Homo sapiens: one gene and its partner. The protein of the gene in region 2 binds, or shares a complex with, the protein of the main gene of each other region. Each region holds a gene or a part of one and is shown on either strand. Other genes may lie near its edges. A codon is read from its position in the direction of its gene.

Evidence for each region.
Region 1: the proteins of AMHR2 (region 2) and AMH are in contact, whole or in part, in a crystal structure (PDB 7L0J), measured with the Homo sapiens proteins. Residues at the interface, in NP_065434.1 of Homo sapiens: Gly31, Val32, Arg33, Gly34, Ser35, Thr36, Thr38, Leu39, Phe62, Ile64, Glu75, Met76, Arg80, Asp81, Ser82, Glu84, Pro85, Ser95, Arg97, Ala98, Pro100, Ser101, Leu106, Thr108; in NP_000470.3 of Homo sapiens: Leu471 (codon at 8,118), Arg472 (codon at 8,121), Glu474 (codon at 8,127), Val477 (codon at 8,136), Leu478 (codon at 8,139), Ile479 (codon at 8,142), Pro480 (codon at 8,145), Glu481 (codon at 8,148), Thr482 (codon at 8,151), Tyr483 (codon at 8,154), Gln484 (codon at 8,157), Lys534 (codon at 8,307), Leu535 (codon at 8,310), Ile537 (codon at 8,316), Leu539 (codon at 8,322), Glu542 (codon at 8,331), Arg543 (codon at 8,334), Ile544 (codon at 8,337), Ser545 (codon at 8,340), Ala546 (codon at 8,343).

Annotation. Positions count from the first base shown.
Region 1 is NC_000019.10:2,243,568-2,258,972, forward strand, and holds AMH (muellerian-inhibiting factor preproprotein), read left to right. Parts: upstream 1-5,755; 5' UTR 5,756-5,765; coding exon 5,766-6,177; intron 6,178-6,769; coding exon 6,770-6,912; intron 6,913-7,071; exon of another isoform or gene 7,072-7,084; coding exon 7,085-7,193; intron 7,194-7,281; coding exon 7,282-7,441; intron 7,442-7,531; coding exon 7,532-8,390; 3' UTR 8,391-8,506; downstream 8,507-15,405. Other genes in the region: SF3A2 (splicing factor 3A subunit 2), read left to right, coding at 977-1,048, 1,166-1,212, 1,879-1,988, 3,186-3,235, 3,315-3,455, 4,027-4,095, 4,200-4,979; JSRP1 (junctional sarcoplasmic reticulum protein 1), read right to left, coding at 8,762-9,229, 9,345-9,436, 10,053-10,226, 10,620-10,734, 10,878-10,915, 11,639-11,747. UniProt on the Homo sapiens protein: Plays an important role in several reproductive functions. Induces Muellerian duct regression during male fetal sexual differentiation. Also plays a role in Leydig cell differentiation and function.
Region 2 is NC_000012.12:53,426,134-53,439,034, reverse strand, and holds the end of AMHR2 (anti-Muellerian hormone type-2 receptor isoform 1 precursor), read right to left. Parts: intron 11,159-12,901; coding exon of another isoform or gene 11,102-11,158; intron 10,140-11,101; coding exon 10,025-10,139; intron 9,583-10,024; coding exon 9,410-9,582; coding exon of another isoform or gene 9,390-9,409; intron 9,205-9,389; coding exon 9,057-9,204; intron 8,890-9,056; coding exon 8,753-8,889; intron 7,859-8,752; coding exon 7,562-7,858; 3' UTR 7,363-7,561; downstream 1-7,362. UniProt on the Homo sapiens protein: On ligand binding, forms a receptor complex consisting of two type II and two type I transmembrane serine/threonine kinases.

The DNA of each region.
Region 1 (15,405 bases), on a different chromosome or scaffold from region 2:
CCTGTGGTGGGTGCTGGGCTTTCCAGGGCAGCCCTGGAGAGGGTGCCAGAGGCTCTTCTTGGGCCTCCGCCCAGGCTGGGCGATGCAGCCCCGTGTCCAGACGCTCCCCTGTTGCCCCCGAGCAGCCACAGCTCCCATCTGTCCACCCCAGAGAGCAGACCCTCTGTGGCTCTGAGTCCCATGTGGACATGTTTTGTTCTGTCCACAGCCTTCTGTTTTGCATTATTTAATTTTCTGGGAGTGGGGAGAGCTGATGTCAGTCCAGCCAGATGTGGTGAAGGGCAGCCTTTGATTTTAGCTTGTGCAGAGGCAGGGGTGAGCCGAGTCCCCTCAGCACCGTGGACATCGGGGCTGGAGCACTCTTTGTGTACCCTGACATGCCCCACGGGCCTGGCCTATGGCAAGGGCTCTGTTACCGTCCCCGTCTTCCAGATGAGGTCATGGGTAGAGGGGGTGCCACAGCCGCAGATGGTGGAGTTAGACTTTGAACTCCAGCGTCTGAGACGAGATGTGTGCGCCCGGCTGCCCCAGCTTAGGGCCTGCAGATGGGCGGGTCTTTGGGTCTTCAGTGTAGCCCATTTGCTTTTCTTGTGCCTGTGTCTGCCTTGTGCCTACTGCTGGCGTGGTGGCGTGGGCAGTGGACGGCTCCCTGCCTCGGGAGTGACCGGCGGTGCTGTCCTGGCTGTGCCTCCCTCTGACTCAGAACCACCAGGAAGGTGGTGTCGGGGGCTCCCTGGGAACCCCCACTGCTCGAAGCCTGGCCCACAGCCCCAGGTGGTGACACCCGTGCTCACGAAGGCCTCCCGCTGGATCCCCCGTTTTCAGAAATGCTTGACCACTGTCAGCGGTAGCCATGCCTCTACAGAAGGGGGGTTCTGCCTCCATGCCTCTACAGAAAGGGGATCCCGCCTCTGAGGGCCTTGACGGCAGCAGGCCGCGATCTTCTGTCTAACGGGCCCCTGTTCTTCCCCTCCAGGACCCGTACTTCATGAAGAACCACCTGGGCTCCTATGAATGCAAACTCTGCCTGACACTTCACAACAATGAGGTGCGGCCTCTGCCTGGCTCCGGGCGGCTCGCGGCGGGCTGAGTGGCTGACGTCAGGGGGACCTGCCTGTGTCTGTCCGCCCGGCCTCGAGTCATGCGTGTTTCCTTTCCACTCCAGGGGAGCTACCTGGCACATACGCAGGGGAAGAAGCACCAGACCAACCTGTGAGTACCTCATGTCCCTTTGATGCCTGGTGCTCCAGCAGCCGTTGGCTCAAGTCTCTGTGAGCCTCGCGGGCCACTGCTCCACAGCCGGGGAGCCAGCCTGGCCTGAGCCTCCCTGGGCGCTTGAGTACGGTTCCTGGGGAGCATTAGAGAACAGAGGCATGGATGGCTGAGGCGGGCAGATCACTTGAGGTCAGGAGTTCGAGACCAGCCTGGCCAACATTGTGAAACTCCATCTCTACTAAAAATACAAAAATTAGGCCAGGCATGGTGGCACACGTCTGTAATCACAGCTACTATGGAGGCTGAGGCAGGAGAATCTTGAATCTGGGAGGCAGAGATTGCAGTGAACCAAGGTGCTGCCACTGTACTCCATCCTGGGCGACAGAGTGAGACTCTTGTCTTATTAAAAAAAAAAAAAAAGAGCAGAGGCATGGAGTTGTTGGAAGGGCCCCAGCCAGGGACAGTGAGGAGCATGACAGGAAGAGAACATGCCTGTCCTATCCCTGTCCTCAGCCAAACCCCAGGGCCCCTCCCAGGCCCCTGGCCCTCCTCATCTCTCAGCTTGTAGTGAGCTCCAAGGTCAGGGGGCTCCTGGCACCTGGGCCCATGGCTTTGGTGCCTGTGTGTGGAGGGGTCCCAGCAGCACCTCCATCCTGTCCGCAGGGCCCGGCGAGCAGCCAAGGAGGCCAAGGAGGCCCCTGCCCAGCCCGCGCCTGAGAAGGTCAAGGTGGAGGTGAAGAAGTTTGTGAAGATCGGCCGCCCGGGCTACAAAGGTGAGTCTGCCCGCAGCGGGGCCGGCCACAGCCGCTGCCGTGACATAAGTGTGTTCTTTAGTCTCCAGTGCGGGAGGTGCAGCCCTGATAGCCTCCTCCCTGAGCCACTGTTTTCCGGCCTTGGTGGCCGTCCCTCACCCACCTGCAGCCTCTGGCGTTGTGTCTGGGAGCTGTCAGGCTGGGCCCGATAAGCACCCATCTCACCCAGCAGCCCATTTCCCAGCTGAGCCACAGTCTGTGCCCTCCTGTCCGGGTCTTGTGGAAGCTTCTGGGAATTCTTGCCAAGCAAAAGAGTGGAAGTGGAGGTGTGGTGAGCCCTGGCACATCCCTCCGGTTAACCTTGAAGCCTTTGAAGGAGGACAGGGAGAAGCGGCTGTTAGAGGCAGCTCCTCCCGGACCCTCAGCAGTGGGAATGGCTAGAGGTGACCCCGGTTCAGAAAGCTGGGGAAGTGACCAGGGTGGAAGATAGAGACTTGTGTCCATAGGGTTCAGGAAGGCGGGCACGCTACCCAGCAAGTGTTCTTTACAGAAGGCGGGGACAGCCTGTGTGCCTGGCCTCCAGACAGAAGCCTGCAGGGCAGAGGTCCCGGGGCAGGTGCACCGGGTGGGCGAGGGTGGCTAGAGCGGCAGGCTCCTGGTGGGGAGGCCCTGACAGGTCCTGGGCTTGGGCTCAGGACGGTGAGGCGGCAGAGGGCTTGTGAGTGTGCGTGTCTGAGGCCGCATGGAGAGTGGCCGGGCGGCAGGCAGCCCAGCAGCCATTCTCGGGGTCCAGGCTGCTGAGCTCTGGCGGGAAGGGCATCCTCTCTCGCTCACCGTATACATGGTGTCAGCCCTGTTCAGGCGGCCCCGCTCGAATCCCAGAGCCAGGGTGCCGAGGGCCCCTCCCTACCCAGTGGCCCCAACTCCTGCTGGGTGGTATCCCAGCACCCCTGGTGAAGGGCTCTGGGGATTGGGACAAAGGAGCACCATCCTCGGTCCCTGCCTGAGTGACTCCGCAGGTAGCTCAGCTCTGGCGCACCTGTGCCTTCACCTATACCAGAATCCCAGAGCCTGGGCGGAGATTGTCTAATGGTTGCCAGAGCTGCAGGGCCTCCCCCGGGGTCCCGCTCTCGTTCAGTGGGTGGCATTAGCCTGCCCCAGGTTCCTCAGCTTCGGAGAGGACAAGCAGCCGGGACCTGAGAGCTTTCTGTGTTGCAGTGACCAAGCAGAGAGACTCGGAGATGGGCCAGCAGAGCCTCCTCTTCCAGGTGAGATCAGGGACTTGGGCGTGGGGGGCGGCCAAAGGCACCCAAGAGGCGGCTCTGCCACCCGGCCGTGTCCCTGCAGATTGACTACCCTGAGATCGCCGAGGGCATCATGCCACGTCACCGCTTCATGTCTGCGTACGAGCAGAGGATCGAGCCTCCGGACCGGCGCTGGCAGTACCTGCTCATGGCCGCCGAGCCCTACGAGACCATTGCCTTCAAGGTAGCGTGGCTGCGGGGTTCCCTGGGCCCCCTTGAGATGTGCAAGCCAGAAGGATCTGCATAGGCTGGGCAGGATGCCCCTCCCATCGGGCTTGGGGTCCCCTGGGCCCCCCCCAAGTCGGAGCCAGAAGGGTCTGCACAGGCCGGGCAGGGCACCTCTCCCATTGGGCTCTGCAGGAGGGCCTGCTTGGGCTCCACTGGGCCAATGAGAAGGGAGGCCGGCAGGGCTGAGCGCCAGGCCTGTGAGGCCTTTGCCAAGTGACCTCACTTCCTGGGCCAGGCTGCTGGAGGGCTTCCTACAGCCTGTCCCCATGCCTGGACAGGGCGGCCATCAGGAAACAAATAATACAAACGGTGACTGCCCAGGGAGGGGGCCAACAGCGTGCTAGCATTGAGGCCAGGTCTGTTTCACTCCAGAACTGAACCCTGTGCCCCACGAAAGTCTTACCAGCCTTCTCCTGGGCTCCCAGGGTAGAGTCCGGGCTGGGGAGGCTAGTGCCTCGGGCTCCCTGCCTGATGGTCGCCCTGAGGTCACAGGGACCAGGAGCCCTCTCTGTCCCCCGCCCTCCCAGGTGCCGAGCAGAGAGATCGACAAGGCGGAGGGCAAGTTCTGGACACACTGGAACCGGGAGACCAAGCAGGTGAGTGGCTCGCCCCGAGCCTGGCTCCTTCCCACCCAGCCCTGGCGGCCCTAGCCCTGCCCTAGCCCCACCCGTGCCTGCTGAACCTTTCTCCGTCTCTCTAGTTCTTCCTCCAGTTCCACTTTAAGATGGAGAAGCCCCCGGCTCCACCCAGCCTCCCTGCTGGCCCCCCTGGGGTGAAGCGGCCTCCACCCCCGCTGATGAACGGTCTGCCCCCTCGGCCACCGCTGCCTGAGTCTTTGCCACCGCCCCCGCCAGGAGGCCTGCCTCTGCCACCCATGCCCCCCACAGGGCCTGCGCCCTCAGGGCCCCCGGGACCACCCCAGCTACCCCCGCCAGCTCCAGGGGTCCACCCCCCGGCCCCAGTGGTGCATCCCCCTGCATCTGGGGTCCATCCCCCAGCTCCTGGCGTCCACCCCCCAGCTCCTGGCGTCCATCCCCCAGCCCCTGGGGTCCACCCACCAACCTCTGGGGTCCACCCCCCAGCTCCTGGAGTCCACCCTCCAGCCCCCGGGGTTCACCCACCAGCCCCCGGAGTCCACCCACCAGCCCCTGGGGTTCACCCACCAGCCCCAGGGGTCCATCCTCCCCCATCAGCGGGGGTTCACCCCCAGGCCCCGGGGGTGCACCCAGCAGCCCCCGCCGTTCACCCTCAGGCCCCAGGGGTGCACCCACCAGCCCCAGGGATGCACCCTCAGGCCCCGGGGGTCCACCCCCAACCTCCCGGGGTCCATCCGTCGGCTCCTGGGGTCCACCCTCAGCCTCCGGGAGTTCACCCCTCAAATCCTGGGGTGCACCCCCCAACTCCCATGCCCCCAATGCTGAGGCCCCCACTTCCCTCCGAAGGCCCAGGGAACATACCTCCCCCTCCCCCAACCAACTGAGAAGCTGCTCCCTCCCCCAGCAAGCCCAGCGCCAGGTGCTCTTGCCTTTTCCCACTGAGAGAAGGCTGCTCTTTTGTACTGCCCCCCGCTCATTAAACAGCCTCCCCCAGCCCTGAGTGCACTGATGTCCGCAGCGCCGCCCTACTGTGTCAGTGTGTGTGGGAGTGCCAGGCACAGCACCATCCCCCAGTTTGGGCCGACTGGGGAGGGCCTGGGGCCCGCCAGGAGACACCTGTGGGAGGCCTGAGAGATGGCTGTACCTTGGAGATGGCCTGGTGGAGGACAGACCCCACCAGCCAGCTAGGAGGGGATCTGGGGTCCTGTTCTGGGGAGGGAAGAGCAGACTCCACGATATCCTTGGGGTCTCCAGATAGCCCACCAGGGGTGGGGAGGGTGAGCAGGGACAGGGCGCCCCCACTGACTTGGGACCCTCCTCCTCCAGGCCCACACCTCAGCACCCAGGACATCTGGGCCCCCCGCCCCCAGCGCTGTCTAGTTTGGTTGCCTGGCCGTCACTCCCAGCCTGGTTCCCACTCCTGTGTCTTCTGGGGATGGCCCTCAAGGACGGCATGTTGACACATCAGGCCCAGCTCTATCACTGGGGAGGGAGATAGGCTGCCAGGGACAGAAAGGGCTCTTTGAGAAGGCCACTCTGCCTGGAGTGGGGGCGCCGGGCACTGTCCCCCAAGGTCGCGGCAGAGGAGATAGGGGTCTGTCCTGCACAAACACCCCACCTTCCACTCGGCTCACTTAAGGCAGGCAGCCCAGCCCCTGGCAGCACCCACGATGCGGGACCTGCCTCTCACCAGCCTGGCCCTAGTGCTGTCTGCCCTGGGGGCTCTGCTGGGGACTGAGGCCCTCAGAGCAGAGGAGCCAGCTGTGGGCACCAGTGGCCTCATCTTCCGAGAAGACTTGGACTGGCCTCCAGGCAGCCCACAAGAGCCTCTGTGCCTGGTGGCACTGGGCGGGGACAGCAATGGCAGCAGCTCCCCCCTGCGGGTGGTGGGGGCTCTAAGCGCCTATGAGCAGGCCTTCCTGGGGGCCGTGCAGAGGGCCCGCTGGGGCCCCCGAGACCTGGCCACCTTCGGGGTCTGCAACACCGGTGACAGGCAGGCTGCCTTGCCCTCTCTACGGCGGCTGGGGGCCTGGCTGCGGGACCCTGGGGGGCAGCGCCTGGTGGTCCTACACCTGGAGGAAGGTATGTGGGGCCCAGCCCCAAGCTTGGCACCGCCGTCTTCCTTCAGGTGGGCCGGGTCCTCCTAGGGAAGATCAGGGGCTGGCAGAGCCCCCACCCTGGGCAGGGAGGCTGTGGTCTTGTTCCTAGGACTGGGTTGCGGGTCCGTGGCCTGGAAGGTGGGCACCACACTCTGTCCTGTCCCCGAAGCCCAGCTCTTAGACTTGCCCCTGCCTCGGTGCCAGGGAGAGAGCTGCTGCCTTCTCCCCACCCCTGAAGACGACGCAGGGCTCGGGGCCAGTGGAACCCTTCTTCCCACAGCCCCAGCCTGTTCTCAGGGCCGCTGGCCTAAGATACTCCCTGCGGGGAAGGGGCTTCATCGGGCACCCCAACCCAGAGACCCCAGGGCGGCAGCCCCACCCACAGCCTCAGACGCAGCCCCTGCCTGCCCCTGCCGTCACCGCTCCCTGGCTGCAGGAAGGCAGCTAAGAGGGGCACCCTTGTCCCCCGCTTGAGGTCCCCTGCACAGTGGCCAGAGCGGCAGGGACAGATCCCAAAGATTCCCGGGGGGTGTGGCCTTCAATGGCTCAGGCGTCCCCTGCTGTCCCGGCTGCAGTGACCTGGGAGCCAACACCCTCGCTGAGGTTCCAGGAGCCCCCGCCTGGAGGAGCTGGCCCCCCAGAGCTGGCGCTGCTGGTGCTGTACCCTGGGCCTGGCCCTGAGGTCACTGTGACGAGGGCTGGGCTGCCGGGTGCCCAGGTACCAGGGAGTTGCATGGGGCAGTGCCCGGGCCGTGGCGGGGGGCATGGATTTGTTGCAGGGTCTGCAGTACTGAGAACAGCGTAGAACCAGTGGCGATGGGAGGAAGGGGACCGGTAGAGCGGGGCTGGGTAAGCCTCCATCCAGCCGGGCTGAGCCCTGGTCTCCGCAGAGCCTCTGCCCCTCCCGAGACACCCGCTACCTGGTGTTAGCGGTGGACCGCCCTGCGGGGGCCTGGCGCGGCTCCGGGCTGGCCTTGACCCTGCAGCCCCGCGGAGAGGGTAGGTCCGCGTGGAGAGGGACGGGGAGCCGGGTCGACTGCCCCCGGGCCCCCAGCCCCTGAGCCAGCCGCGTGCCCACCCACCGCAGACTCCCGGCTGAGTACCGCCCGGCTGCAGGCACTGCTGTTCGGCGACGACCACCGCTGCTTCACACGGATGACCCCGGCCCTGCTCCTGCTGCCGCGGTCCGAGCCCGCGCCGCTGCCTGCGCACGGCCAGCTGGACACCGTGCCCTTCCCGCCGCCCAGGTGCGCGCAGGCACCGGGACACGGGGCAGGAGCGGGCGGGGGCGGCGTGGCCTCGTGGCCGCTCTCAACTCCTCCAATTGCGGGTTCCAGGCCATCCGCGGAACTCGAGGAGTCGCCACCCAGCGCAGACCCCTTCCTGGAGACGCTCACGCGCCTGGTGCGGGCGCTGCGGGTCCCCCCGGCCCGGGCCTCCGCGCCGCGCCTGGCCCTGGATCCGGACGCGCTGGCCGGCTTCCCGCAGGGCCTAGTCAACCTGTCGGACCCCGCGGCGCTGGAGCGCCTACTCGACGGCGAGGAGCCGCTGCTGCTGCTGCTGAGGCCCACTGCGGCCACCACCGGGGATCCTGCGCCCCTGCACGACCCCACGTCGGCGCCGTGGGCCACGGCCCTGGCGCGCCGCGTGGCTGCTGAACTGCAAGCGGCGGCTGCCGAGCTGCGAAGCCTCCCGGGTCTGCCTCCGGCCACAGCCCCGCTGCTGGCGCGCCTGCTCGCGCTCTGCCCAGGTGGCCCCGGCGGCCTCGGCGATCCCCTGCGAGCGCTGCTGCTCCTGAAGGCGCTGCAGGGCCTGCGCGTGGAGTGGCGCGGGCGGGATCCGCGCGGGCCGGGTCGGGCACAGCGCAGCGCGGGGGCCACCGCCGCCGACGGGCCGTGCGCGCTGCGCGAGCTCAGCGTAGACCTCCGCGCCGAGCGCTCCGTACTCATCCCCGAGACCTACCAGGCCAACAATTGCCAGGGCGTGTGCGGCTGGCCTCAGTCCGACCGCAACCCGCGCTACGGCAACCACGTGGTGCTGCTGCTGAAGATGCAGGTCCGTGGGGCCGCCCTGGCGCGCCCACCCTGCTGCGTGCCCACCGCCTACGCGGGCAAGCTGCTCATCAGCCTGTCGGAGGAGCGCATCAGCGCGCACCACGTGCCCAACATGGTGGCCACCGAGTGTGGCTGCCGGTGACCCCTGCGCCGCGCGGACTCCTGCCCCGAGGGTCCGGACGCGCCCCAGCTCGCGCCCCTTCCCATATTTATTCGGACCCCAAGCATCGCCCCAATAAAGACCAGCAAGCAACCGGCTGGGGTGTCCGTGCGTGTTAGGGGGCCCGTGGGACCTCCCTTGCCGTCTCTCCTCGCGCACGGCCCGGGTCCGCCCTGTAGCGCTCGCTGTCTCTCCCCTGCCTGAAGCGCCCCACCACCGTCTTTCAGGCCCCGGACTTGGTGCCGGGTCCAGGCGTAAAGGAGCAGGTGACTCTGCGGCCGCAGCACTCGCTTTATTTCGCCAGAGTCGCGGGGCGTCCAGAAGGGGCCCCTGGACTCCGGCGCGGGGCCGGCTCAGTCCCGCCCCTTGCCTGCGCGGAGCTTCTGGCGACTCCCAGGCCGCTGCTCCTCGTCGGGACGCCTCGGGGACACCCAGGCCTGCTTCTTCCTGGGCTCGGCGTCCCTGGAGTCCCGTGCCCACGGCCGGTGGCCCCCTTCGCGTGACTCCCAGCGCTGGGGTAGGGCTTCCCGGGGCTCCCTGGCGGCCCGTGGCCTCTCCTCTTTCCGCGGCCTCTCTTTCTTAGGTCTCTCCTCCTTCCGCGGCTTCTCCTTCCGCGGCTTCCCCTCTCTCCGAGGCCTCTCCTTGGGTCCCCGGTCTGCGAGGGTCACACGGTCCTCCCGGACGGCCTCTCCGGTGGCCTCGCCGGGCTCCTCTTCGTCGTTCTCTGCAGCCTCCCGACTCCCGGGAATCTTGGGTCTGACCTCTGCCTCGGCCCGGGGCGCAGGCGGCGCTGATGGAGGCGCCTGGGCCTCGAACTTAGGCTGCAAGACAGAGTGGGGTCCTGGGGTAAGCGCCCACCTTCCCCCCGGCCCGGGCTCCTTCTTTCCTTGGGGATGAAGGTCCCAATGCCCGCGGTCAGTGGAAGGAAGCTCTTACCAGGGGCGACGATGGCTCCCTCGGGGCTGAGCTTGGCGGGACCCAGGGCTCGGGCACACGTGCTTGGAGTGCTGCCTCCCCAGGGACGGCGTCTGCAGCGACAGGGTCGGGACCCGAGTCAGCTGGGCCGAGGCACGGTCCACACTGTCCATCCCTCCCTCACCCCTAGAGCCCCCCTCCCTGGACAGTTGGAGTGGGGCTCCCCCGGTACGGCTGAGACTAAGGATGCCCCCGAGCCGTGGGAAGGGACTCCGGGACTCCGCTGCCGCGGCGCCCCTTCTCCGAACCTCGCTCTTTCAATTGGTCATTCTTCCCCCCGACCACGGGCTGTAGGAGGCCCCTAGCAAGGGAGGGGTCGCAGGAGTGCCCCCGGGGGGCGCTCACGAGCTGAGCGGTCCCCAGAGAGGGCGCAGGGGAAAGGCGGCAGAACGCTACGAGGCAGGAGGGGTTGCACAAGGTTCATCCGGAAGCCAGAACCTACTCGCGGCGAGGGGAATGGGCCCCGCAAAAGGTCCACACCGGGTGAGAGGGGCGCGCAAGGCCCGTCACTTAAGGGGAGATGCACAAACCAACTTTGGGGGCGTGCAAGACCCAGCCCTGGAGAGGAGGCTCCCAGACCCCACCCTGGCGGCACAGCGCCTTTCCTTGGAGGAATAGGCGCACAGGTGGACCCCAGCCTCGCCCCACCTCTGGGGAGCCTGCGCTCACCGCGGCACAGCTGGAAAGCCGAGCCCAGCAGCGCCACCAGCGAGGCGAGCACCAGGCACTTGTTGAGCGACAGGTCTCCCCAGGGCAGCTCCTCGCTCAGGGCCGGGGGCGGCGGCGGCGGCTGCAGGGGCGGCGCGGTCTGCGCCTTCTTGCGCGCGGGGACGCTCCGAGGGCCTGCGGGGGCAAGTGCGCGCTGCGCTGTGGTCACTGGCTCTGTGCCGCCCCCTTCCCCGGGCGCAGGGGACAAGAGACAGGCCTGTGCCCTGAACCCGGCTCTCTCTGCCTGCCTGTGCGGCCCCGGGCGCAGGTGAACCCAGCCCCGGGTGCCCCGCAGCTGCACGGGGATGCCTAGAGTTTCTGGAAGGTAACTTCCCGGAGCTGAGTGGCATAGCTGGTATTATTACGCATTAGTAGAGGCTCCCTGCCCGTTGACTCGCTGCCTGCCACACTTCGACGCCACTCAACCAGGACACCACCCTCCAAGATCCAAGGACCCAGCTCCGGCACCTGAGCCTCACACCAGTCCGTTCCCACCCCACACCTCACCCATGCCTCCTGCAAACCCACTCGCTCCGGCTTTCAGCCTCTCCTTCCCCGTTCCTGGGGTCCCCCTGGCGGCAGGCTCTTTTTCCATCTTCTTGGGCCTGGTGTCCACACTGGGGCCTTCAGCCACCTGAGAGTCCTGTGGTTATCACGAGACATTCCACATGTTTCCTTCCAGTGCCAAACCCTTCCCGTGGGCTTTAGACACCTGCCTCCCTTGGTCGGCTTGTCCCCAACTCCCCAGGCGTCCTGGGTTAAAGGCTGAGGGTCCCAGCTACTCACGTGGGGCACGCTGCCGGAGTCGGCCAGCCTGGGTGTCGCTGTGGGAACACAGGCAGAGTCAAGGTTGTGGGGACCCCCAGGCCAATCCCACCCTCTCCCCTGGCCCTGCTGGGTGACGTGCGGGTGACTAACCCCATCTTATAGATAAGAAAGTAGGTGGAGGCCAGCACAGTGGTTCACACCTGGAATCCAGCATTTTGGGGAGACTGAGGTGGGAGGATCACCTGAGCCCAGGAGTTTGAGACCAGCCTGGGCAACATAGTGAGACCCCATCTCTAAAAAAAAAAAAAAAAAAAAATTAGCGAGGCATGGTGGCCTGCACCTGTGGCCCCAGCTACTTGGGAGGCTGAGGCAGGAGGATCACTTGAGCCTGGGAGGTCAAGGCTGCAGTGACTTATGATCATGTCACTGTACTCCAGCATGGAAGACAGAATGAGGCTCTGTCTCAAAAAATAATAATAAAAATATATAAAAATATAAAGAAAGCAGACAGGCTTGGAGACAGCTTTGCCCAAAGACACCCAGCATTTCAGTGGCAACGTGGGATTCGAACCTAGATCTGTGTGGCCCAGCACCTGTCTTCCTTGGGGGCTCCTTACAGACCCCTGAGGCAGAAATGAGGGCCAGGGGTTGAACATGGGGAGCACACTATAAGCCAGTCCAGTGTGGGAGGCTAAGAAGCTCTAGTCTCTGAAGATGGGCCTCCTGGCTCAAGGGGACCATCAGGGAAGGGCTTCCTCCCGCCAGCGCCACAAGGGTACCTGAAGCCCTGTCCTCCTGGGTCTCGGCCAGCGCAGAGTGGTCCTCCAGGGCCTGGCAGCTGCCCAGGCCGCCATCCAGCTCCTCCCAGGCTCTGGTTGTCATGGACATGGCTGGAGCAGCAGCAGGTCCCAGGCCAGGCTGGGAGGGGTGGGGAACAAGGTCTTGCATTTACTGAGTCTCTGCCACAGGCCTGGGCCTGACCTGGAGGTTCTGCGGACACCAACTAACAGGCCCCGTCCTCCCACCCCTCCTCACTCGGCAAATTCATACTCATGCCAGGCATGGCCCGGCGCCCACTCCAGGCATCTCTCTGACCCCGCATGCCTGCCCTGGGACCCCTCCCTACCGCCCAGCCTCACTGGGGTCCAGTATCCATCAGTACAGTAGCCCAGGCTGCTCTGGCCCAGAGAGGGCGGGAGCCCCTGCAGGACAACACAGCAATGAGTCCCAGACGCACCCCAAACCGAAACTCTTGGCCCCAGAGTCAGCTCATGTTCTCTGAGACCAGGGACTATTTTTATCTGGTGCCTGAGGCCAGCGGGACAGGCTAACAGGTGCCCCAGCCCCTCCCAGGCCTCTGCTCTCATGGGGTCTCCCTCTGGGCCACCCTGACTTGCCATTCTGGGCACCCACATCCTGCTGCGTGACCCTGTGAGTCTACAGGCTCAGGCCCCAGCAGCAGAACCATCCTGGCTCTGGTCGTGACAGGCCGGGGCAGGGGAGGAGGGTCCCGGTTGTGGTTGGGGGTCTTCTGATCCTGACACAGAGTACCCTGCCTTGTCCCACTAACTCTGTTCCCATAGGACAGATGAGGAAACCGAGGCTAGAGACAGTGCCATTGGCTGGAGGTCGCAAGGAGCTTCAAGTCAGACCCAAAGCTGTACTCTTCAGGGTCCCCATGGCCTCTGGCTGCTGGGATTAGGGTGTCCCTGTATCTAGGCTGAAAAACCACCCAGCCCTGGGGCTCCAAGACCTGGAAGGGGCCTATTGCGTGGCAGTGGGGGAGGGGCCCAAGAAGCATGGGAGGCTGGTGTGTGGCCCCTGGGTGTGCATGGGGGCAGCTCCAGGAATTGGGGACCCTTACAGTCCTCTGCAACACCCCTTCACACCCCGGGAGCCCACACCTCTGCCCGGGATTCCCCCAGCCTCACTTCCTTACCCCCGAGCCTCGCTTACCCGCCAGCCGCTTTGCTGAGCCTTGTGGACAGGACGGAGGATGGGGAGGGTGGCCCCGTGATGGACGGCAACAGGTGGCCAGAGACCGCGGGTGGGCCAATCAGCATGCCCGCTGGAGTGAGGTCACAGCCGGGGAGTCCCCCACCCTTCCCTGCCATTGCAGCAGGGCAGGGCATTGCTCCTACTCAGCACTCGCCACTGCCACCCAGGGAGACGTAGCGCCTGCAGCTGGGACTACAGGCGCGCACCATCACACCCGGTAAGTTTTCAATTTTTTTTGAGACGGAGTCTCGCTCTGTCTCCCAGGCTGGAGTGCGGTGGCGCGATCTCCACTCACTGCAAGCTCCGCCTCCCGGGTTCACGCCATTCCCGTGCCTCAGCCTCCCGAGTAGCTGGGACTACAGGCGCCCGCCACCGCGCCCGGCTAATTTTTTTTGTATTTTTAGTAGAGATGGGGTTTCACCGTGTTAGCCAGGATGGTCTCGGTCTCCTGACCTCGGAATCCGCCCACCTTGGCCTCCCAAATTGCTGGAATTACAGGCGTGAGCCACTGCACCCGGACTAATTTTTGTATTTTTTTTTCAGTAGAGACAGGGTTTCCCTATGTTGGCCAGGCTGCTCTCGAACTCCTGACCGCAAGTAATCCATGTGATCCGCTCGCCTTGGCCACCCAAAGTGCTGGGATCCCAGGCGGGAGCCCCTGCAATGCATTCATTCCTGCTGTTTAAAGCCACTGTATTTGGGGTCATTTGTTTCTGTGGCTCTGGCAGGCTCATACACTCGGAACTGCCTGCTCCCACACCGTCATGCAGAGAAACCTGACGCCTCTGCTCTGGAGAGGACCCGGGGTCTCTCAGCCCCCAAAGGCACATTCTAAGGCCTGCAGGCAGATGTTTGAGCCCTACCTGCAAAGCATGGTGACTCTGGGAGTCCTGAGGGAAGAGGGGAAGTGGATTTTGGTGGTGAGGCCTGTGTGTTAAAAATCCTGAGTGAATGGCCGGGCGCGGTGGCTCACGCCTGTAATCCCAGCACTGTGGGAGGCTGAGGCGGGCGGATCGCCTGAGGTCGGGAGTTTGACACCAGCCTGGCCAACATGGTGAAATCTTGTCTCTATTAAAAATACAAAAATTAGTGAGGCGTGATAGTGGATGCCTGTAATCCCAGCTACTGGGGAGGCTGAGGCAGGAGAATTGCTTGAACCCGGGAGGTGGAGGTTGCAGTGAGCCGAGATCACATCATTGCACTCCAGCCTGGGCGACAGAGTGAGACTCTGTCTCAAATAATAATAATAATTCTGAGTGAATAGGGCCTCCCCAGGAACTACCAAGAGACCCAGAAGGCCAGCCCGCCTTCAGCAAAGCAAGGGCTGGGGTTCCCTGGTCCCCACTCCCTCCGCTTTAGAAACGGCTCTCGGCCGGGCGCGGTGGCTCACGCCTGTAATCCCAGCACTTTGGGAGGCCAAGGCAGGTGGATCACAAGGTCAGGAGATTGAGACCCTCCTGGCTAACACGGTGAAACCCCGTCTCTACTAAAAATACAAAAAATTAGCTGAGTGTCGTGGCGGGCGCCTGTAGTCCCAGCTACTCGGGAGGCTGAGGCAGGAGAATGGCGTGAACCCGGGAGGCAGAGTTTGCAGTGAGCCGAGATGGCACCACTGCACTCCAGCCTGGGCGACAGAGCGAGACTCTGTCTCAAAAAGAAAAAAAAAAAGAAATGGCTCTCATTTTTTTCTGTATGACACAAGGCAGAGACAAACAGGAAACAAAGAGAAGCTGAAAGCAAAAACTGTAAAGCACCTGTCATCTTCCCGCCCCCAAACAGACACTGTTTAATAGTTTGACATGTTCTTTCCGCTGTTTGTAACTTGTGATTTTATTATTAGTTCCATATTTATTTTTATAAAGCTGGCATAATTAGCGAAGGGCTGAACATCTTGTTTGTAACCTAGATTTATTTTTTCTTCCTAAAAGTTTTTTTGTTGTTGTTGAGATGGAGTCTCTCTCTGTCACCCAGGCTGGAGTGCAATGGCGCGATCTCGGCTCACTGCAACCTCTGCCTCCTGGGTTCAAGCGATTCTCCTGCCTCAGCCTCCCGAGGACCTAGGATTACAGGCATGCACCACTGCGCCTGGCTAATTTTCATATTTTTAGCAGAGATGGGGTTTCACCATGTTAATCAGGCTGGTCTCAAACTCCTGACCTCAGGCGATCTGCCCACTCTGGCCTCCTGAAGTGTTGGGATTACAGGCGTGAGCCACAGTGCTTGGCCCCTCCTAAAAGTATATTACAGCTTGGCAGTTCCTCAAAAAGCTAAAATAGAATGACCATAAGATGCAGAAACTCTACTCCTAGGTATCTACGAAAAGGAATCCGAAGCTTGGACTCAGATATTTGCACACCCAAGTTCAGGGCAGCACGATTCTCCGCAGCCACATGGTGTAGGCAGCTCTAGCGTTCCATCCTCAGATACACGGATCAACACAGCGTGGCCCTTCCACACGGTGAAGTACGACACAGCCGTGAACAGGAACGAGGCTCTGACTGCGGCCATGGCGTGAATGCACTTTAAGGATGTCACGCTCGGTGAGAGG
Region 2 (12,901 bases):
ATGTTGAGCTTTTTTTCATGTTTGTTGGCTGCATATCTTCTTTTTTTTTTTTTTTTTTTTTTTTTTTGAGACGGAGTCTCTCTCTGTCGCCCGGGCTGGAGTGCAGTGGCGGGATCTCGGCTCACTGCAAGCTCCGCCTCCCGGGTTCACGCCATTCTCCTGCCTCAGCCTCCCAAGTAGCTGGGACTACAGGCGCCCGCCACTACGCCCGGCTAATTTTTTGTATTTTTTAGTAGAGACGGGGTTTCACCGTTTTAGCCGGGATGGTCTCGATCTCCTGACCTCGTGATCCGCCCGCCTCGGCCTCCCAAAGTGCTGGGATTACAGGCGTGAGCCACCGCGCCCGGCCGGCTGCATATCTTCTTTTGAGAAATGTCTGTTAATGTCCTTTGCCCCCCCCTTTTTTTTTTGAGACGGAGTCTCGCCCTGGCCCCGTTGTCCAGGCTGGAGTGCAGTGGCACGATCTTGGCTCACTGCAAGCTCCGCCTCCCAGGTTCGCACCATTCTCCTGCCTCAGCCTCCCGAGTAGCTGGGACTACAGGCACCCGCCACCGTGCCTGGCTAATTTTTTATATTTTTAGTAGAGACGGGGTTTCACCCTCTTAGCCAGGATGATCTTGATCTCCTGACCTCGTGATCCGCCCGCCTCGGCCCCCCAAAGTGCTGGGATTATAGGCGTGAGCCACCGCACCTGGCCTTTTGCCCACTTTTTTTTTTTTTTTCCTATCTCTTTTTTTTTTTTTTTTTTAATTGATCATTCTTGGGTGTTTCTCGCAGAGGGGGATTTGGCAGGGTCATAGGACAATAGTGGAGGGAAGGTCAGCAGATAAACAAGTGAACAAAGGTCTCTGGTTTTCCTAGGCAGAGGACCCTGCGGCCTTCCCCAGTGTTTGTGTCCCTGGGTACTTGAGATTAGGGAGTGGTGATGACTCTTAACGAGCATGCTGCCTTCAAGCATCTGTTTAACAAAACACATCTTGCACCGCCCTTAATCCATTTAACCCTGAGTGGACACAGCACATGATTCAGAGAGCACCGGGTTGGGGGTAAGGTCATAGATCAACAGCATCCCAAGGCAGAAGAATTTTTCTTAGTACAGAACAAAATGGAGTCTCCTATGTCTACTTCTTTCTACACAGACACAGCAACAATCTGATTTCTGTATCTTTTCCCCACATTTCCCCCTTTTCTATTCGACAAAACCGCCATCGTCATCATGGCCCGTTCTCAATCAGCTGTTGGGTACACCTCCCGGACGGGGTGGCGGCAGGGCAGAGGGGCTCCTCACTTCCCAGAAGGGGCGGCCGGGCAGAGGCACCCCCCACCTCCCGGACGGGGCGGCTGGCCGGGCGGGGGCCGCCCCCCACCTCCCTCCCGGACGGGGAGGCTGGCCGTTGCCCACTTTTTAATGGGGTTGTTTTTTTCTCGTAAATTTGTTTGAGTTTCTTCTAGATTCTGGATATTAGACACTTTGGCAGATCACAAAAATTTTCTCCCATTCTGTAGGTTGCCTGTTTGTTCTGATGATAGTTTCTTTTGCTGTGCAGAAGCTCTTTAGTTTAATTAGATCACATTTGTCAATTTTTGCTTTTATTGCGATTGCTTTTGGTGATCCCATCATGAAATCTTTGCCCATGCCTATGTCCTGAGTGGTATTGCCTAGACAGTGTTCTTTTATTCTGAAATAATTTTAGACTCACAAGAAGTTGTAAAATTTACCCAGCTTCCCCCAGTGATAGTATCTTACATAACAAGACTATCTTTTGACTGAGTGGGGTGGCTCATGCCTGTAATCCCAGCACTTTGGGAGGCTGAGACTGGTGGATTCCCTTGAGCTCAGGAGTTCGAGACCATCCTGGCCAACATGGTGAAATCTTGTCTCTACAAAAAATAGAAAAATTAGCTGGGCATGGTTGTGTGCGCCCATAATCCCAGCTACTTACGAGGCTGGGGTGGTAGGATCACTGGAGCCTGGGAGACAGAAGTTACAGTGAGTCAAGATCATGCCACTGAACTCCAGTCTCACTCACAGAATGAGACCCTGTCTCAAAACAAACAGGCTGGGCACGGTGGCTCACGCCTGTAATCCCAGCACTTTGGGAGGCCGAGGCGGGCAGATCACGAGGTCAGGAGATCGAGACCATCCTGGCTAACAGGGTGAAACTCTGTCTCTACTAAAAATACAAAAAATTAGAGGGGCGTGGTGGCTGATGCCTGTAGTCCTAGCTACTCAGGAGGCTGAGGCAGGAGAATGGCATGAACTTGGGAGGCGGAGCTTGTAGTGAGCCAAGATCATGCCACTGCACTCCAGCCGGGGTGACAGAGGGACACTCCATCTCAAAAAAACAAAACAAAAACAAACAAATACTACATTTTGATATATTTTTATATTAGGTTTGTGCAAAATACTTGAAATAATTTGGAAGGTTTTCTAAACTCTAGGAAACTTAGATATACACATTGTTTCTTTCTTGGAAGATTATCAAGTTTCAAAAAAGTATTGGCCGGGTGCGGTGGCTCACACCTGTAATCCCAGGACTTTGGGAGGTCACCAGGCGGGTGGATCACGAGGTTGGGATTTTGAGACTATCCCAACCAATGTGGTGAAACTCCATCTGTACTAACAATACAAAAATTAGCCGGGCATGGTGGCATGCGCTGTAATCCCAGCTACTTGGGAGACTGAGACAGGAGACTCCCTTGAACTAGGGAGGCAGAGGTTGTAGTGAGCCGAGATCGCACAACTGCACTCCAGTTTGGGGGCAACAGAACAAGACTCTGTCTCAAAAAAAAAAAAAAAAAAAAAGTTTGCCTACTCCAGACATTTCTTTTTCTTTTCTTTTCTTTTCTTTTTTTTTTTTTTTTTTTTGAGATGGAGTTTCGCTCTTGTTGCCCAGGCTGGAATGCAATGGCGTGATCTCGGCTCACCACAACCCCAGTCTCCCAGGTTCAAGCGATTCTCCTGTCTCAGCCTCCCAAGTAGCTAGGATTACAGACATGTGCCACCACGCCTGGCTAATTTTGTATTTTTAGTGGATACGGGGTTTCTCCATGTTAGTCAGGCTGGTCTCAAACTCCCGACTTCAGGTGATCTGCCTGCCTCCGCCTCCCAAAGTAATGGGATTACAGGCGTGAGCCACTGCACCGGGCCCAGTTTCTAAAAAGTGTATTTACATGCCTAATACTTCTCCACAAGCATGCAATCACTACTCATGGGAATATCACATTAGGCAAACACTGGATTTGGTAAACTCATCTTCACAATTGGGACTTTCATATTTTATCATTTTATCACAGAATCATGGAACTATAGGGTTGGAAATGACTTAGAGAAACATTCATTCAATTTCCTGAGAAAAATAAACTTTTCTAAGAGTTCACAGTTAGGAGAGACAAGATTATAACCTATATTTTTTGGCTTTAAGCAATCTCCTTTTTTTTTTTTTTTTTTTTTGAGACAGTCTCGCTCTGTCGCCCAGGCTGTGGCGCAATCTCGGGTCACTGCAAGCTCCGCTTCCCGGGTTCATGCATTCTCCTGCCTCAGCCTCCCAAGCAGCTGGGACTACAGGTGCCGGCCACCACAGCCAGCTAATTTTTTGTATTTTTAGTAGAGATGGGGTTTCACCATGTTAGCCAGGATGGTTTCGATCTCCTGATCTCGTGATCAGCCCACCTCAGCCTCCCAAAGTGCTGGGATTACATGGGTGAGCCACCGTGCCCAGCCTAATTTTTGTATTTTTAATAGAGACGGGGTTTCACCATGTTGGCCAGGCTGGTCGCAAACTCCTGACCTCAGGTGATCCACCTGCCTCGGCCTCCCAAAATGCTGGGATTACAGGTGTGAGCCACCACGCCCAGCCCATAGATTTACTTTTGATTGAACATAGCCTTATGCTCATCAGCATGTTTGTACACTCTTTTCTTTTTTTCTTTCTTTCTTTCTTTTTTTTTTTTTTTTTGAGACAGTCTGGCTCCGTTGCCCAGGCTGGAGTGCAGTGGTGCCATCTCAGCTCACTGCATCCTCCACCTCCCGGGTTTAAGCAATTCTGCCTCAGTCTCCTGAGTAGCTGGGATTACAGGTGCGCACCACCACGCCCAGCTGACTTTTGTATTTTTAATAGAGACAGGGTTTCACCATGTTGGTCAGGCTGGTCTCGAACTCTTGACCCGCCCCCTTCGGCCTCCCAAAGTGCTGGGATTACAGGCGCGTGCCACTGGGCTCAGGTTTTTTTTGTTTTGTTTTGTTTTTTGAGACGGAGTCCAGGCTAGAGTGCAGTGGTGCGATCTCGGCTCCCTACAACCTCCACCTCCCAGGTTCGAGCCATTCTCCTGCCTCAGCCTCCTGAGTAGCTGGGACTACAGGCACGTGCCACCACACTTGGCAAATTTTTGTATTTTTAGTAGACATGGGGTTTCACCATGTTGGCCAGGCTGGTCTAGAACTCCTGACCTCAGGTGATCCGCACTCCTCAGCCTCCCAAAGTGTTGGGATTACAGGCGTGAGCCATCGTGCCCAGCCAAACATTTTTAAGGGCTGAAAGTCTTTGCTTTGTTATTTAAAAGCTGTGTGACCTTAGATGTGTTTCTAAATTTCTCTGAGCCCTCTTCCTCTGTAAATGGTACTCACAGGATTGTCATGAAAAACCCAAGAACACTGTTGAGCAGAGGCAAGACATAATGAAAGTTAGGAGATTATCCAGGCCGGGTGCAATGGCTCACACCTGTAATCCCAGCACGTTGGGAGGCCAGAGTGGATGGATCACCTGAGGTCAGGAGTTTGAGACCAGCCTAGCCCACATGGTGAAACCTGTCTCTATGAAAAATACAAAAATTAGCCGGGCATGGTGGCACATGCCTGTAGTCCCAGCTACTTGGGAGGCTGAGGCAGGAGAATCGCTTGAATCTGGGAGATGGAGGCTGCAGTGAGCCAAGATCGGACCACTGCACTCCAGCCTGGGCAATACTCCATCTGAAAAAAAATTTCTTTTAAAAATAAAGAATATCCAAAGAGTACTGTTTAGCCTAGATCAGGGGAAACATAACCTACCAAGGGGTAACTGTAGTAGTTGGGCCCTGCCAGGCCTAGGAAGAAGGAAAGAGGGATGGTGCCCAGAAGCAGGCCCTGCCCATCAAAGTATGATGTAGGTTGATTAAGAAAGAAAAAGAGCCGGGCACGGTGGCTCATGCCTGTAATCCCAGCACTTTGGGAGGCCGAGGAGGGTGGATCACCTGAGGTCAGGAGTTCGAGACCATCCTGGCTAATATGGTGAAACCCCGTCTCTACTAAAAATACAAAAAATTAGCTGGGCGTGGTGGTGGGCGCCTGTAATCCCAGCTACTCCAGAGGCTGAGGCAGGAGAATGGCATGAACCCGGGAGGCAGAGTTTGCAGTGAGCCAAGATTGCGCCACTGCACTCCAGCCTGAGCAACAGAGTGAGACTCCGTCTCAAAAAAAAAAAAAAAAGAAAGAAAAGAAGGCCAGGTGCAGAGGCTTATGCCTGTAATCCCAGCACTTTGGGAGGCCAAGACGGGTGGATCTCGAGGTCAGGAGTTTGAGACCAGTCTGGCCAACATAGTGAAACCCCGTCTCTACTACAAAATACAAAAAACTAGCTGGGCGTGGTGGCGGGCGCCTGTAGTCCCAGCTACTTGGGAGGCTGAGGCAGGAGAATCAGTTGAACCCGGGAGGCAGAGGTTGCAGTGAGCTGAGATCCCGCCATTGTACTCCAGCGTGAGCAACAGAGCGAGACTCCGTCTCAAAAAAATAAAAGAAAAGAAAAAGGAGAAGTAGCCCCTGCCTAGGCTGCCTCAGTGGGACTTGAGAACTGACTGGATGTGGATGAGAGCTGGGTCACAGAAAGGGACAAGAACATGCTCCTGGGAAACTCCTCTCAGTTAAGACACAGCTCAAGCATCCTGTGCTCTGTGAAGCATTCCTGCTCAAGTCTCTCCTGTTACCCCCAGGACAGCGTACAGGAACCCAACAATGTGGTGTGCAGGTCTTTAAGCACTGTTAGGGCAGTGATTTTGTTGTCTTTACCCTTCTTTCCCCAGTGCCCACCATGAGATCCCACCTTTAAAAATAAATGTTGAGGCTGGGTGTGGTGTCTCATACTTGTAATCCCAGCACTTTGGGAGTCCTAGGCAGGTGGATCGCTTGAGCCCAGGAGTTCAAGACCAGCCTGGGCAACATGGAAAAACCTTGTCTCTATGAAAAAATACAAAAATTAGCCAGGTGTGGTGGCACACATCTGTAGTCCCAGCTACTTGGGAGGCTGAGCTGGGAGGATCGCTTGAGCCCAGGAGGTCAAGGATGCTGTGAGCTATGATCACAGCCTGAGTAACAGAACAAGAGCTTATCTCAAAAATAAAAATAAAAATAATCAACAATTTACTTTGGGAGGCTGAAGCGGACAGATCACAAGGTCAGGAGATCAAGACCATCCTGGCTAACATGGTGAAACCCCATCTCTACTAAAAATACAAAAAAATTAGCTGGGCGTGGTGGCGGGCGCCTGTAGTCCCAGCTACTTAGGAGGCTGAGGCAGGAGAATGGCATGAACCTAGGAGGCGGAGCTTGCAGTGAGCCAAGATCGTGCCACTGCACTCTAGCCTGGGCGACAGAGCAAGACCCCCGTCTCTAAATAAATAAATAAATAAAATTTAAAAAATAATAAACAATTTAAAATGCTGGGTGCAGTGGTTCATGCCTGTAATCCCAGAACTTTGGGACACTGAGGAAGGAGGACTGCTTGAGCTCAGGAGTTTGAGACCAGCCTGGGCAACATACCAAGACTTCACCTGTACAAAAAATAAAAAATCAGGTGGGGCGCGGTGGCTCATGCCTGTAATCCCAGCACTTTGGGAGGCCGAGGTGGGCAGATCACAAGGTCAGGAGATGGAGACCATCCTGGCTAACAGGGTGAAACCCCGTCTCTACTAAAAATAAAAAAAATTAGCCGGGTGTGGTGGTGGGCGCCTGTAGTCCCAGCTGCTCGGGAGGCTGAGGCAGGAGAATGGCGTGAACCCGGGAGGCGGAGCTTGCACCGAGCCGAGACTGTGCCACTGCACTCCAGCCTGGGTGACAGAGTGAGACTCTGTCTCAAAAAAAAAAAAAATAGCTGGGTATCGTGGTCCATGCCTGTGGTCCCTCCTACTCAGGAGGCTGAGGCAGGAGGATCACAAGAGCCCAGGGAGGACAAGGCTGCAGTGAGCCGTGATCGTGTCATTGCACTCCAGACTGGACAGAGACTCTGTCTCCAAAAAAAGAAACCAGATAAATAAATAAAAATAAATGTTAGTGGAAAAGAAGAGAGACAAGAGGGTCCCTGGATTACAGGAATAGAGGAAGGACCAAGGATATGCATCAGGAAAGCTGACTTTATTCTCTTTCCTGTGCACACCTACCCCAAGTCACTGGTCAGAACTGATGTGGACTGGATGCCCGCAGAAGAATCCAAGGATTCGGCAGGTGGGAAATGCAGTGATGAGGCAGACAAGACAGCTATACAATCGCCATATTTATGTTGGCATGTACATTGATGACACATAAACTGCATATTTACACAGGAGAAAGGGTACAGGCAGGCTGAGGATTCCTGGAACAAGGGCCTTGCTGAACGCTGAAGTGGCAGGCACTCCGCTGAGGCCTACAGGGGAGGATGGTAGGGGCAGGAATTGAAGTACAGTCTTCTGGGCAGAGAGGTGGGCAGCCACGTGGACAGCTCTCTGGAAAGGGGTGGCTCTCTTGAGGATGGGCCAAGGCAGCCAGGCGCTGCTGTACACACTCAGCTGTCAGCCGTGCTTCTGGGTCTGCATCCCAACAGTCTTCTAGGAGCTCCCTCAGCCCATCAGGGTCCTGGGGGGAATGACAGGGAGGAAGGGTTGACCCTAGGATCTTGAGTGGGCCCCAGGGTTAAAAGCCATCTTCAGTGTCCATCACTCTCCTGCTTTCAACATCCACTTCTGATCTTTCCTGGAGCCTCCCTCCTCTCCCTCTTGCTGAATTCCAGCCCTCTGAGTCTTGCTCCCTATGAAACAGGCTCTCTGGGGGCCTTCTGTATAGCCCACTGTTTCCTCTGAGGAGCTAATGTAGGTTGACAGCTTAATATGCTAATGGGAAATTACTCTCTTTCCTCTCAGAGAGCCAGAGTCTTCTGCAAGTAATGCCCAGTTTCTGTCAGCCAACCTAAGACTTGTGCCGTGGAAATTTCAGATCAGGTACAGAAGGGACATTTTGTTAAAAAAGTATTTGTGCAAAGCCCTGAACTTTCACTGTGACGCCACTGCTTTCACCTTTTATACCTAGAACTGCCTTTTATTGGGTCACAGCAGAAACATCATCAATGTATGACAGAATGGGGACTTATTGAATTGATTTTTGGGCTTTACTGTATTAGGAGAGCAGATGGGGCAGAGCTCAGGGCAAGAGCAAAGCCAAGGAGGGCTTCCTGGAGAAGGGGACTGAGGAACAGGGCTAACTGATGGCAGAGAGGAGAGACAGGCTGGGCAAGGTTGAGCAGGAGGAAGGTGTGTGTCTCAGGTAGATGGAATCGACTGTGTGAGACTTAGGGTGGAAGAGGATGAACTGACGGGGAGAGGAGGCTTGCCCAGTTCCAGCTGAGCATGAACCAAGGAGTGATGGGAGATAAGTGGAGATAGGAGTAGACAGACACTCTGGCAGAGACGTCCTTGAAGCCCATGCCCAGCCCCCACTCTCCAGGTTCCCAGACCAACAGCCTAGGCCTCTTACTGTGGCAAAGCAGCGCCAGGTGGATGGGATGTAGGGACGCCTCCTCTCCTGCACTGCCAAGGCCCATAGCTCATCAGAGGTAGGGGTATTGCCCAGTTCTGCCTCATAGGCCAGTTGGAAGGGTGGTGGACTGCTGTCTGGAGGAAGGTAGAGGGGCTGGGTATCAGTTAGTCCTAGGGGTGCCTACCATGTAGAAAGGGCAAGACAGGGAAGAGCAGAGCTTTCTCAGGCCAGGTCAGGTTGGGGTGAACCTAGAATGGGCGGGGGGGAGCCCAGGAGAGGGGACTGTACCACCCATCCTTACCAGGCCTCAAATCTGGGCAGCGGCTCAGTATCTCCCACAGGAGCAGAGCCAAAGAGTAAATATCAGCTCGTCGGAGGGCCATGCCCCAATCCTGTAGGTCCAGAGTCTTGTCCAAGAGCTCTGGTGCCATGTACCTCTGGGTGCCAGCCTGGAGAGCAAGGCACGAAGGGCCAAGAATCATCTCTGTGGCAATCCTCATTGCAGCAATGGTCCATGCAATATCCCCCCAACTACAGACTCAGCAATGTCCCAAATGCTATAGGTATTGCTACAACTGTTGACACACAATGGCTGCATTGCCATCAGCAGCACCAACATCATCCTGGGCCTCACCAGTTATCCAGAGAACTCACTTCCATGATGGCAGCTGGGCCTTGTGGTTGAGTAGGGGTCCAGGCAGGGGGCTGAGTGAGGCCAGGGAGCACCAAGGCAAGGCCCAGGTCTCCAATGGCACACGATCCATCTTCCCGAATGAGCACATTCTGGCTGCTCAGATCTCGGTGGGCAATACCTGGTTTATATTGGCCTGTGGGGGAATCCAAGGTTGAAGGAACATGGATTTTCTTCCTCCCTCTTTTTTTTTTTTTGAGTCGGCGTCTCGCTCTGTCGCCCAGGCTGGAGTGCAGTGTCGCGATCTCGGCTCACTGCAACCTCCGCCTCCCGGGTTCAAGTGATTCTCCTGCCTCAGCCTCCCGAGTAGCTGGGACTACAGGCACATGCCACCACGCCCGGCTAATATTTTGTATTTTTAATAGAGACAGGGTTTCACCATGTTAGCCAGGATGGCCTCGATCTCCTGACCTTGTGATCCGCCCACCTCGGCCTCCCAAAGTGCTGGGATTATAGGCGTGAGCCACCGTGCCCGGCTCTTCCTCCCTCTTTTGACCCAATCTTTCCCCTCCAAACTAAGGCAGAATCACAAACATAGCACTGTGGCTCCCTTGACTTCCTATGCCCAGCTCACCCACCATTCTGCCAGCGCTCCTCATGGAGAAATGCCAGGCCCTGGGCCAGGGACAGTGCCATCCGCAGGGAACTTCCCCAGTCACTGGTGTACTGGGTCAAGTAGTGGCACAGGGAGCCCTGGGGAAACGCAGAGAGAAAAGGATGGTACACAAAGCTGGAGACGGCTGATCCATCCCAGGGAGCAGAGATCAATTGACAGTCTTCTCCCTGCATCTCCCCAGCAGACAGACACACTGATGGATGCTGGCCAAGACAATAGGTAGAGGAGTAAGACTGTGCATCAATTGACATGAAAAATAGTAACTCTAGATCAAGGGTACTGGGCACTTACTGTGGTCCAGACCCAGTGGATGTGGCCTCCTGTAATCCTTGTGAAAACCCTAGAAGGTAGGTGCTCCTGTCACACCCCCATTTAACAGATGAAGAGCTTTTCCTTACAGAACTAAGGAAACTCTCTTGAAGTCAGTCGGTGAGGCAGGAGTGGAGCTTGAATCCAAGCAGTCTGACTCAGGATCACTTACTAATAACCACCACCTTATACTGACTCAGAAGACATGCGGCAAAGACAGTAACAGAGGAGGCAGGGCAAGCTAGTCAGGGGCATCCTTCATGAGTCACCTTGTCTGAGGTGTCAGGCATGTGTACACATAGACGGGCAGAGCCAGTAGATAACAGAGTAGCAGGTGGAGGGCAAGTGGGAATTGGAGGGAAGGGAGCAATAGAACCCCTCATTCAACAAGTGTCATCGAGCACCTTCGGTGGCCACGAACTGTGTTCAGGCACCAAGATGGCTCAGGGAAGGTAAGAGATAAAGAATGCAGTAAACCCCAAGATAGGAAAATTAACCGAGTGCCAAGGGGCATAAAGCAAGAATGACTAACCCTGCCTGGAGAAGTCAGAGAAATTAAACAAACAAAAAAACAGTGATTTTTGAGCTGGGCCAGGAGGTATATGGTCAAAGAAGGGACTTTCCATCATTCAAGATTTCAGAAGTACAGAAGCTGTAGGTGCTGAAAAAGTTCAGGGAAGAGCCACTGCATTTGGGCTCTGAAACAGGTGGTGGAGGTTGAACTACTTACAATAGGGCAAAGTGAGTTGTGGGGAGCTCTTCCACGTGGACAGAGACACACACAGTCCTGATGGAGGGGTAAACAGGAGGCAATAGACACGATGATGAGGAGCCAGCTCTAGAGTCACATAGATTCTGGGCAAATGACTTTCCTTTTCTGAGCCCCATGTGGATAATCATTCCTATCTCATAATGTGTTTGTGAAGGGTAAGTTTGGAAATGTGTTTAAAGCGTGTAGCATGGCCGGGCGGGGTGGCTCACGCCTGTAATTCCAGCACTTTGGGAGGCCGAGGCAGGCAGATCACTTGAGGTCAGGAATTTGAGACCAGCCTGGCCAACAGGGTGAAATCCCGTCTCTACTAAAAATACAAAAATTAGCCAGGAGTAGTGGCGGCACGCCTTAATCCCAGCTACTCAGGTGGCTGAGGCAGAATTGCTTGAAACCAGGAGGTAGAGGCTGCAGTGAGCCAAGATTGTGCCACTGCACTCTAGCCTAGTCAACAGAATGAGACTCTGTCTAAAAAATAAAATAAAATAAAATAAAATAAAAAGCGGGTAGCGTAATGCCTAGCAGGAAGCAGATGGGAAATGGTATGAAAACTTAAAAAGCCCCAAATATTTAACAGGCCCACAGGGCCTGGTGTGGCTGGCCTCTGCCTACCTTTTCCTCTTCTTGTTGCTCATTGCTCTCCCCTTCAAGTCACATCTTATTATTCTTATAGTTCATTGGCCCTCTCTCCTAGCACTTAGCACACTTGACATTTGACACTCGTGTTTACTTGATCCATTTCTGTCTCCCCTGCTAGTCTATAAAATCTGTAAAAGAGGGACTGTGTGTTTTTTGTGGCCTCTAGCATAGTGCCTGACATATAGTTCATACTTATTTGTTGAATGAATACGAATGAGTTTGGAGGGCTGTGCCTGAAGATATTTCTTTAACAATTTTTTTTTTTTTTTTTTTGGCTGGGCACGGTGTCTCACACCTGTAATCCCAGCACTTTGGGGGGCTAAGATGGGTGGATCACTTGAGGTCAGGATTTTGAAACCAGCCTGGCCAACATGGTGAAACCCCGTCTCTACTAAAAATGCAAAAATTAGCCAGGCGTGGTGGCAAGCGCCTGTAATCCCAGCTACTGGGGAGGCTGAGGGAGGAGAATCGCTTGAACCTGGGATGCTGAGGTTGCAGTGAGCCAAGCTTGTGCCACTGCACTCCAGCCTGGGCAACAGAGCAAGACTCCGTCCTCCCACCAAAATAAAATAAAAATATATAAACATGTATTGTTTATGTAATAAAAAAGATAAATAAAAATTATTATTTTGAGACAGGGTCTTACTCTGTCACCTAGGCTGGAGTGCAGTGGCACAATCTTGGCTCACTGCCAGCCTTGACCTCCCCAGGCTCAGGTGCTCCTTCCACTTCAGCCTCCCAAGTAGCTGGGACCACAGGCATGTGCCATCACACCCAGCCAATTTTTTGTTTTTTGTAGAGGTGGGGTTTCACGGTGTTGCCCAGGCTGTTCTTGAATTCCTGGGTTCAAGTGATCCTCACACCTTGGCCTCCCAAAGTGCTGGGATTACAGGCGTCTGCCACCGTGCCCAGCCTGTTACTATTTTTTCACATGGTCTCGCTCTGTCTCCCAGGCTGGAGTGCAGTGGGATGCTCACGGCTCACTGCAGCCTCAACCTCCTAAGCTCAAGCGATCTTTCCACCTCAGCCTCCTGAGTAGCTGGGACTACAGGTGTGCACTGCCATGCTGAGCTAATTTTTGTAATTTTGCAGTGATGGGGTTTCCTCATATTGCCTAGGCTG